Homo sapiens: one gene and its partners. The protein of the gene in region 1 purifies or fractionates together with the protein of each later gene. This does not show direct contact. Each region holds a gene or a part of one and is shown on either strand. Other genes may lie near its edges. The genes, in order: SLC16A5, BMPR2 and ROBO1.

Region 1 (3,656 bases):
CCGAAGCGTCCCACCAGGATGCTGCACAGGGGCCCTGTGGGAGAAGACAGCCAGCAGGTAGCAGCTGAATGAGGAGGTGGCGGGAGAGGAGGAGAGTGGCTGGAGAGGGCAGTTCCAGCTGGAACTAGCCAGGTGGTTTCAAGGGCACGAGCAGGCCTGGATTCTGATACCCACCTGCCATGGACTGGCCATGTGGCCTGAGCAAAGCCTGATCCCTCTCCGTGCCTCAATTTTTTCCCCTACAAAGTGAGGATTCAGAATGGGCGATGTTTGACCCTGATGAGGATTCCCTGAAAGGTGGAGCAAGACCCTGAACTACACAGACCTGAGGCTGCTCATTCTATCCGGGTGAAACAGGATTGGTTCATGAGTTTACCTCCCCCACTTCGCTGGGGGTCTGTTGGTGGGAGGAGTCGGGGCAGTGTTCCAGGACATCTAGACTACAGTGTGCACCTTCAGATCCTGTTTTACCTGCCCCATCCCCACACCCAACATCCTCAGGAAGACTGGCTAGATCCCTCCCACCCTCCCACCACCTTCCCAGCCCTACAGCTGAGGGGAACCCTGGGCCCCTCTGCGCCTCCTTGCACTGGCCTCTGCAGACAATCAGGCAGGGTAGGTTCTCCCCTCCCACACCACCTCCAGCACCACCAAAGTCTGCACCTAGAGGTTTGGCTCAATGTGGAGGGGGGCCTGTTCCTTGCCTGGCTCCCAGCTGCTTTCTCACCAATCCACACCCCAAAAAAATAGAAAAGAGCTGCAGACTGCTCCTTGGCACCTCACAGGGGCCCCATTCACCCAAGCACATGTGGAGCTTCTCTAACTTACTCTCCGAGAGTGCAACTAAAGGGACAGGGAAGTGTGTGCGCATGAGATGCTTGTGTGTGTCTGCGGTGGAGGGGGGATGTGTGGTGTGAGCCAGTGTGAGTATAAAAGTGACAGAGTAGGCTGGGTGTGGTGGCTCACGCCTGTAATCCCAGTACTTTGGGAGGCCGAGGTGGGTGGATCACTTAAGGTCAGGAGTTCGAGACCAGCCTGACCAACATGGTGAAACCCCATCTCTACTAAAAATACAAAAATTAGCCAGGCATGGTGGTGCGTGCCTGTAATCCCAGCTACTTGGGAGGCTGAGGCAGGAGAATCGCTTGAACCTGGGAGGCAGAACCCGATGCGCTCCATCCTGGGCGACAGAGTGAAACTACATCTCAAAAAAAAAAAAAAAAAAAAAAAGTGATGGAGTGGCCATGCGTGGTGGCTCACGCCTGTAATCCCAGCACTTTGGGAGGCCGAGGCAGGTGGATCGCCTGAAGTCAGGAGTTCGAGACCAGCCTGGCTAACATGGTAAAACCCCATCTCTACTAAAAATACAAAAATTAGCCAGGTGTGGTGGCGCATGCCTGTAATTCCAAGCTACTAGGGAGGCTGAGGCAGGAGAATCGCTTGAACCCGGGAGGTGGAGGTTGCAGTGAGCCGAGACTGTGCCACTACACTCCAGCCTGGGTGAGAGAGGGAGGCTCCATCTCCGAAAAAAAAAAAAAAGAAAAAAGCAAGTGACAGACTAAGTGAGCAGCCCGTCGCAGACATAATCAAGCAGAGGCTGGTGGCCCGGCGTCTCTGCCCCTGTAGAGGGGGAGGTGGCTCTGGAGAGGACTGACCCACAGAGCTTCCTCACGCCAGAGACTCTGGCCTGACTTAGGGAAGTTGACATTGGGGAAAGCCCTTAGTCACAGGGGTGGGGGTGGGGACTGGGCTGCAGGCCAGAGCTGCATAGCTGAGGGTGGTGTGGCCGGGCGGGACACAGGGTGTTTCCTCTGCCGTGAACTCACTCTTCAGCCTTGGGCAGGTCTTGTGTTCTGTGCCTGCTTGCTTTCCTTACCTCTAAAAGGCGTAGGTAGGGGCAGGGGCACTTGAAAGGATCAGTGAAAGTATCCATGATTCATCGTGTTTAAAAATTTCTACAATACTGTGGTCAGGTGCCGTGGCTCATGTCTGTAATCCCAGCATTTTGAGAGGCCCAGGCAGGTAGATCACTTGAGCCCAGGAGTTTGAGACCAGCCTGAGCAACATAGTGAGACCCCGTCTCTACAAAAAGTAAAAAAATTAGCTGGGTATGGTCTGGGCGTGGTGGCTCACACCTGTAATCCCAGCACTTTGGGAGGCCAAGGCCAGCAGATCATGAGGTCAGGAGATCGAGACCATCCTGGCTAACACGGTGAAACCCCGTCTCTACTAAAAATACAAAAAATTAGCCAGGCATGGTGGTGCGCACCTGTAGTCCCAGCTACTCAGGAGGCTGAGGCAGGAGAATCGCTTGAACCTGGAAGGCGGAGGTTACAGCGAGCTGAGATTGCACCACTGCACTCCAGCCTGGGCAACAGAGCGAGACTCCATCTAAAAAAAAAAAAAATTAGCTGGGTGTGGTGGTGCACACCTGTGGTCCCAGCTACTCGGGAGGCTGAGGTGGCAGGATCGCTTGAGCTTGAGAGGTTAAGGCTGCAATAGGCTGTGATCATGCCACTGCACTCCAGCCCAGGTGACAGAGTGAGACTCTGTCTCAAAAATAAGCAAATAAATAAATAAACATAAAATAAAATGTCTACAGTACTCTGAATGAGCACGGGCTCATACACGTGTATGTGTACATGAGAGAGATGGCCAGCCAGGAATCCCATGCTGATGGAGATGCTGAGATGCCTGCTGGGGGTGGTGAGCCGCAAGTCAGCTGGGGAGTAGGTTCCCCGCCGGGTGCCCGGTTCCTAGCCCCTGGCCCAGGAACCCTGCTCTGCCTGTGTGAGAAGCAGCCCTCTGGGATTCCCACTCCCTGCCCCAACCCTGCAGGCCAGAGGCCATGTGGCAGATTCAGAGCTCACCCAGGAGGGTGGCGCTTTCTCCGAGCCTCACCTCCCTCCCAGTTTGAGGGCAGGACCTGGAATAATAGGCAGGCTGCTGGTGGCAAGTGGAGGGAGTAGCCAGGAGGTAGCCGGGGAGATGGGCAGCTGCGGCCAGCAGACACACGCCTGCAGAGGCCTGTGGGCCATCAGCTCGGGCTGCTGTCCACCGGGCCCCTCCGAGGCCGGGGTCTCTGCAGTCTCCCTGGAGAGCTCCCAGGAGCTGAGGGCAGGTCCCTGTGTCCACGGCGACTGCAGAGAACCCTCCCTCTGCCCTGCTCCCAACGCTGGGGTCAGGGTGAGGCAGTCACACTCCTGGAAAAGCCAGCCAGGAACATGGGCCTCTGAGGCCTATGGTGACAGAGCCAGGAGAAGGGGCAGACAGGGGCTGCCTTCCTCCCTCACCCCCACTTAGCAACCTCCTCTCTGCAGGGAGTCCCGGGAGAGCTGGGGCTCCTGCCTTGTCCCCCTCTTGTTCCTGGTGTCTTTTTTTTTTTTTGAGACAGTTTCACTCTTGTTGCCCAGGCTGGAGTGCAATGGCACCATCTCAGCTCACCGCAACCTCTGCCTCCTGGGTTCAAGAGATTCTCCTGCCTCAGCCTCCTGAGTAGCTGGGATTACAGGCACCCGCCACCACGCCCAGCTAATTTTGTATTTTCAGTAGAGACAGGGTTTCTCCATGTTGGTCAGGCTGGTCTCAAACTCCCGACCTCAGGTGATCTGACCGCCTCGGCCTCCCAAAGTGCTGGGATTACAGGCGTAAGCCAT
Region 2 (3,617 bases), on another chromosome or scaffold:
TATTTGTATTTTTAGTAGAGATGAGGTTTCATCGTGTTAGCCAGGATGATCTCAGTCCCCTGACCTCGTGATCCACCGTCTCGGCCTCCCAAAGTGCTGGGATTACAGGCGTGAGCCACCGCGCCCAGCCTAACTATGAGGTGATTTAAGGAAAGTAATGGGAAGGTGCACTTAAATGCCCTGTGATTCCCTCTTTTCTTTATGTTAATCTGGAAACTTGTAGAAAAGCCTTCTCTTGATAACAAATTTTATGTAACTAGCTCAAACAGTGATTTGCCAGATTTACTTAATCAAGGAATATATTTAGGAGGGAATCATGCAAGATAGTTTTGGGTAAAGTTTGCACAGTTCATAATCTAAAAGTTAAAATGCAACCTTATATGCTGGAGAGTAAACTGCCAGTAACAGTACATTTAGAAACATTGCATTCTGAAAAAGTCTCCTGGGGTTTATGTGGGAGTGTTACAATTTCCAGAATGACTGGTCTAGATAATCAACATGTGTGTCCGGATTTTAACTTTAAGAAGTTAGATGGGAAGATAAAGCAATATATGAAGCAATCTGTGAATAGTTACATAATAACCTGCACATAACAGGTAGTAAGTTCAACATAACTTTATAAAATGTTGTATGGAAATATAATCTCAAATTCTAGGAGTTAATGATCTCCAATAAAATATTCATGTCCATAAATATGAAAAAAGGAAAAGCTCATTGAAATATTTTTCCATTTTAAATGACTTTCAGGAGGCACTTACAAAGACTAGAAATTTCAGTGTAACAGCTACAGCCTACCAATTCCACTTGGCTGTAGAAGTCAAATTTGAAAATAATTTAAATAAAAATACTTGCCAATGTTTTGTGATAATTCCCACTGAAGCCCACACTTACTTGAGTGTTCCTTTCTCTCTTTAAATATTTTCACATTCAGAACCAATGCACATTTTCTGGAACAAGTGGATACATGTAAAGAAGCTATACTAAACTTTTATAAAAAGGACATTATATCCTTGTATCCTTCCTATATCCTACTCAATTAGTTCTATAGATTAGTAAATTTTCTAAAGTTATTAAAAGCAGAAGTTTTGAAGATGGATTCAAAGGATTGATGAGACTGAAATTCTTTGTTAATTCCCCCAAATCTGCTATGGAATCAATTTAGGGAAAGGTCTCTGTTCCCAAAGCTATCTTAACTTTTTCCGTAAAATTTACTTTACCATTAGTTCTGCAATGTAAGAAATGTTAGGAGTGAAGTGAAATGATTTTAAGATTCATGATGGAAGATACAGGATTGAGTTTTGTCTAGAATTAGTAATTATTTCTCAAGCAACAATCAGCATAGATATGTCTACATATCTCATATTTGCCTAACTTCCCAAATCATTAAGGTATGTGGTTTGGCTCATATACAAATGAAAATTGTGCCAGAGTATAGTGACTGAATTTTTATGTTTTTTTTTTGAGGCAGTCTTGCTCTGTCGCCTAGGCTGCAGTGCAGTGGCGCGATCTCAGCTCACTGCAACCTCCACCTCTCGGGTTCAAGAGATTCTCCTGCCTTAGCCTCCTGAGTAGCTGGGACTACAGGCGCCCACCACCACGCTCAGTTAATTTTTAAAAAATATTTTTAATAGAGACGGGGTTTCACCATCTTGGCCAGGCTGGTGTTGAACGTCTGACCTCATGATCCACCCGGCTCGGCCTCCCAAAGTGCGGGGATTATAGGCATAAGCCACTGCACCTGGCCTGAACTTTTTAAATAAACGTTAGCCCATTACACATCCTGTCATATGGCATGTAGGCAGTGTGGTATGGATGAAAGAGATGTGGAGAGAGGCAGACATAGACTGAAATCCCAGCTTTGTCTGTTACTAGATGTGGACCTTGGGCATATTACTTAGCTTCTCTTAGCTTCAGTTTCCTCATCTGTAAAATGGGAATATTAATTACAATGCTCATATGGTTGCTCTGAGGTTTAAGAGAAATAGCATATGTATACTTCAGCATTCAGTATGTGCCTTCTTGTAACTTCCTACACTGGTAACAGTGGGTTTTTTTTTTTGCCAATTATGCATTTAGAAAGTTTTAAGAATTTACAATTAAATCATTTTTGTCTAAACGTAATTCAAATCAAGTTCTTTCAGTGACCTAATTCTGGTATACAGTTAGGATTTTGTTAAGGGAACTAATATTAGACTTTACCTATTATGATGCTTTTAAGGTTACATTACCATCCAGTGAAATAAATTTTAATATTTTTAGTTGAATGATCTTTTATTCAAAAGGACCCCACTTTTCTACATATAAAACTTTGTGATAGCAGTTAAATGTCAACTTTAAGAAGCATTTATTATCAGATGAGTATTAGCATACAATTAAGTCATTTAAAATAATTTTGCTTGCTTGTATATTACAGATTTTAAAAGTCTGATGTACAATTTAAAATTTATAAAAATGATATATACTTTCCACCTTTCCTACTTTTTCAGGAGTTTACTAAGAAAAACTGGTGAAAGGAAATTATTTGTTTTAAACATGCTTGAATGAAATAGTAAACTATTCAGTTATTTTAATCTGGCATATTAATTTTTAAAGCATTTTATCATAATTTTCCCAATATTAAAAAATGTTGGACAACCTACAATCAACTGGCCCAAATACAAATATAGCAGAACGTAAGATAACTCTTCTGGCAGGAAAAGATCAGTTAGACCTCAAATGGTCATTTATCCTCAATGCTTCAAATTGGAGAAGGAACATAATTTATTTTGATTCAAAGTTGTCCTACAAATATTTGAAAAGAATATCCTAAAATGCATGTGAAAGATATTTAAGGGCAAGAGAACTAAGTGAAAATGTACTAGGAAAGATAAAAATAATTTGTTAATAGAAGAATAATAACTGTGAAAAAAATTACGTGCCAGAAGACTGAAAATAGATTAAGGGGCTGAATAAAGAAAAGGGCCAATAAAACACAAAACGTGGAAATCCTGGGCACTAACAAGATATTCTTAATTCTATGAATCCAGAACTGTGTTCAGCAATCCAGCTGAATAAATGGTAGGTATAGTAACATCTAACTTGTAAGATCACAGCACATGGCAAATGAGAAGGCTTATATACAAGTAAATCACAAATATTTTGGACAGAAAATTGGGAAATTTAGGCTGTCTTTAGCTAAGTGATAAGATAGAGGAATATGAGTGAGAAAATATTGTTCAGGAGATAAAAACATAAATCAGAAATTTGGTGATTTGTGTTTTCCTCTTAACCTTTTAATCCCTGGAACTATCTTAGAACTAAACTATATAACATTTACTAAGTACTCTGATAATCGAAAAAAAAGTAAAAAAAAGTGAAATCATCAGTTTGCAAATTAATAGAAAATAATTTCTGTTTAGAAAAAAGTCCATTATTTGACAGAAAGTGCTTTATTTAAAAAAAACATGCAGAGGTTGTTTTAGAGGAGATTATAAGTAATGAAAGAAGCAAAGGGCTTTTAAAAATAATATGATTTCAAGTCATTTTATTACTAAAAGGTATACTCTAATGTAAATAATAAATGTTGCTCACATATCAAAGATAATGTGAAAAACTGGCAAAAGGAAAAATTATGAAAA
Region 3 (3,656 bases), on another chromosome or scaffold:
CACAACTGTATGCCTGTTTCTCTATATTTCCAGTATTCCAGTTAACAAGGATTCATTATACTTAGAGTGATGTGGTTTGGCTGTGTCCTCACCCAAATCTCATCTTGAACTGTAGTTCTCCTAATCCCCATGTGTCACGGGAGGGTCTCGGTAGGAGGTAACTGAATCATGGAGTAGTTACCCCGTGCTGCTGTTCTCGTGATAGTGAGTGAGTTCTCAGGAGACCCGATGGTTTTATAAGGGGCTTTGCTCACTTTTGCTCGGCACCTCTTGCTGCCACCATGTGAACCGGGACGTGTTTCTTTCCCCTTCTGCCATGATTGTAAGTTTTCTGAGGCTTCCCCAGCCATGCTGAACTGTGAGTCAATTAAACCTCTTTCCTTTATAAACTGCCCAGTCTCGGGGAAGTTCTTTATTAGCAGCGTGAGAAGAGACTAATACATTGTTCCACTAGCTATGCATATGCAAAGGCAAATTGACAGAAATGTTAAAAAGACTAAATGAATGTTCAGACAGAATGCTAACTTACTGCTCACTTACAAATGAGGTTACATATTCCAGAATCATGCATGTGAGTACAGGACAAAACGGTGTTAAGCTCTAGTCATCAAAACCTTTCAGTTAGAGTCTACTGGCTGGAGACCACTGTACTGGGGACAAAAGTTTAAATTCATTTTATAGCTATCATTGGGTCTACATTCTTTACAAATGTGTATCTAATATCAAAAACCTCAGACTGCCTTAAGGCAGGCTGCAAGTATAGTAAAGCTCCTGGAGAGGTGATTCATAATAGCAAATATGAGCTATGGGTGTGTTACATTCACACAAGAGACAAACGTGGGCATGTTCTACAACTTGGTGTGCTTTTTCTGCAAATTCTGAAACAAAAAGTGCTTCCAAAAAGACTGTTTCTGTACATACTTGAAGTAACAAAACAGCAACATGGCTGGCAGACCCCTCTCCCAAACCAGCAGCAAAGGACTTTAAGTCTCAGTCATCTTGTGTATAACTTGTTTCTATTAAAATAACCAAGTCTATTTTTTTTTCTTTTTTCCTTTGTTCCCTTAAGATAGAAACACTATCCCTCTGTATGTTGAGAAAATAATTTTATAGTTCGAATCACTCCCCTCTAGAATTACCTTTCTTTACTAATATAAAAACAAGCACATTTTATTTACAATGACGTGATTTTTTTCCAAAAATAAAAGGTATCCAGATATCTCTCATATTTATGTGATCTCAAGAGAGTATTATTTGATTAGGGTTGTAATCTAAAAATTCATCCAGAAGGTTGTGAGTACTGAACTTATAAATAAATAAAATTTGGTTAATTTTAAATACAATTATAATATGATTAAGATTGTACACCTACATGTTACCATATTTAAAATTCAGGAAATTGAATAGAATACACAAATATTCACATATTTTTAAAATTTATGGGTACTAACAGGTGTATATATTTATGGGTACATGAGGTATTTTGATATAGGCATACAGGGCATAATAATCACATCAGGGTAAATGGGGTATCTATCACCTCAATCATTTATCCTTTGTTTGTGTTACAAACATTCCAGTTATACTTTATTTAAAAATGTACAATAAATTATTATTGACTGCAGTCACCTTGTTGCTATCTAATACTAGATCTTATTCATTAGATCTAACTATTCTTTTTTTTGTACCCGTTAACCATCCCCACCCTCCCCACAGCCACCCTACTACCCTTCCCAGCCTCTGGTAACCATCATTCTACTTTCCATCTCCTCACGTAATATTTTTGTCTTGATATATTTGTAATTTTATGAGAAACAGTTCTCTTTGTTAATCCATCTTATGTTGGTATGCTTAGTCCAGAAAATAATAAAGTTTGTAGACATTGTGTTTGTATATTAAAAATTAATTAAGCAACTTGGGCAACTTGAACAACACACTGTAAATGTACAATTCTAGCATGTAGCACAAGTGATTTGTCAGTGCAATTATAACATCTAAGGATAAGTAGGTGTCACAGGTTTAAGTAAATCAATATTTACCTTGTGTTTTCACTGGATCTGATATTTGGCTTGGATCACTAATTCCATATGCATTAGCTGCCCTCACAAGGAAAAGGTAAATTGCATTAGGTTTGAGTCCTTTAATGGCAGATGTTTCTGTTTTCACATTCTCTGCTACGGTCTGCCAGCTGCTACCAGATGCATGGCTAAGGATAGACACACAGGTTAGAACATGCGTATTTAATGGAGAATCAAAAAAGAACAACTAGGAAGCATCTCCTTCACTCTACCTGAAGGCTTCTATAATATAAGATGTTGGAGTTGCTCCTGAATTCAAATTTGGTTGCCACGATAATGTGACTGTATTTCTGCTGACATCTGTCACTTCAGGTTTTGATGGGGCACTAGGGATTAAATTTGGGTCAGTAGGTCTTGGAGGCTGAACTGGAACTCCAAATTCTAAAAAGCAGGAAAAAGGCCAAAATAAAAGATGTTTACACATACACAGATAAGCGGATAAATGCAGATAACATATTCATACACCTACTCAGGGAAGAGGACATTTACTTCATCAATATCCCAGTAAGTAAACAACTGCATTTTAAGCTTCACTTTAAGGGAAACACACCATTTACTTTACCTTGAACTTCAATGTAAGCACTCCATGTTGCTTCACCACTGGGGGTTGATGCAATGCAGGTGTACCGACCAGTATCACCCAGCTGAGAAGGCAGACAAAAAATAAATATTTGGAAAAATCAAGAACTCACTGGGCTGGAAAAGCAATTACAGGTTTGTATATGATCCATGAATATGGATAACTGCATTAAAATTCACTAACCAGAAACTTCCCCTTAGTTGAATATATTTTTATTGAATGTGAAGGAAAATATTACATCAATATAGAAAAAAAGATTTTATATGATTGTTCTAATGGTATAATAAGAAATATTTAATTGCATTAGCATATATTATCATCAGTCTCAGGGACAATAATTCCTAAGGTAAGGCATACAATTCTTCAAATTTAGAGCGTTAATATTTATGGCTAAGATATATCTTTATGTTTAATAAGTTATATAATAAGGCTGATAAAGTTTAACCAATGCCTATTCTTGCTATTTCATATTTTACTTATATATTTAACTATATGGATATATGAGATCAACAGAAAAAGGATAGGCATCATAGAATTTTTTTCTTAAACTACTGACTTTTCCGGGTTTTAAAACTTGTAACTTAAGGCAGTTTAAGAAGTACAAAGCCAAACTCAAGCTGGAACGAACACTCTCGCTCCCTTTTAAAAACTGAATGTCAGAAGGCAAACATAGGTTACATGTTCAACTTTGAAATCAGCAGCAGGATAATAAACCCATCTACTTCTGCTCAAGCTAATAACTATCTTCAAGTAACATTTGATAAAGAAAGAATGTTGTCATCTTGCCCTGGCAATTGCAGGAACCAAGTCACAACAGTCACAAAGCAGCACAACATATTAACTGTTGTGGCACTTAAAGTGAACTGTGATGCTGATCCAATACTCCAAAGGAACCACCCACACTAGGAGATAAAGCAACTGAAATTCATGTTTATTGCTGTCAGGACTATTCTTTCATATGCCTCAGGAGCTCGTCTGATCTTGACATAAAAAAAGAA

The links.
Region 2: the proteins of SLC16A5 (region 1) and BMPR2 purify together in Homo sapiens (affinity purification with mass spectrometry; one large-scale study listed by BioGRID and IntAct). This does not show direct contact.
Region 3: the proteins of SLC16A5 (region 1) and ROBO1 purify together in Homo sapiens (affinity purification with mass spectrometry; one large-scale study listed by BioGRID and IntAct). This does not show direct contact.

Annotation. Positions count from the first base shown.
Region 1 is NC_000017.11:75,094,416-75,098,071, reverse strand, and holds part of SLC16A5 (monocarboxylate transporter 6), read right to left. Parts: intron 35-3,656; coding exon 1-34. UniProt on the Homo sapiens protein: Proton-linked monocarboxylate transporter.
Region 2 is NC_000002.12:202,561,279-202,564,895, reverse strand, and holds part of BMPR2 (bone morphogenetic protein receptor type-2 precursor), read right to left. Parts: 3' UTR 1-3,617. UniProt on the Homo sapiens protein: On ligand binding, forms a receptor complex consisting of two type II and two type I transmembrane serine/threonine kinases.
Region 3 is NC_000003.12:78,665,844-78,669,499, forward strand, and holds part of ROBO1 (roundabout homolog 1 isoform a precursor), read right to left. Parts: intron 2,723-3,656; coding exon 2,641-2,722; intron 2,460-2,640; coding exon 2,291-2,459; intron 2,207-2,290; coding exon 2,040-2,206; intron 1-2,039. UniProt on the Homo sapiens protein: Receptor for SLIT1 and SLIT2 that mediates cellular responses to molecular guidance cues in cellular migration, including axonal navigation at the ventral midline of the neural tube and projection of axons to different regions during neuronal development.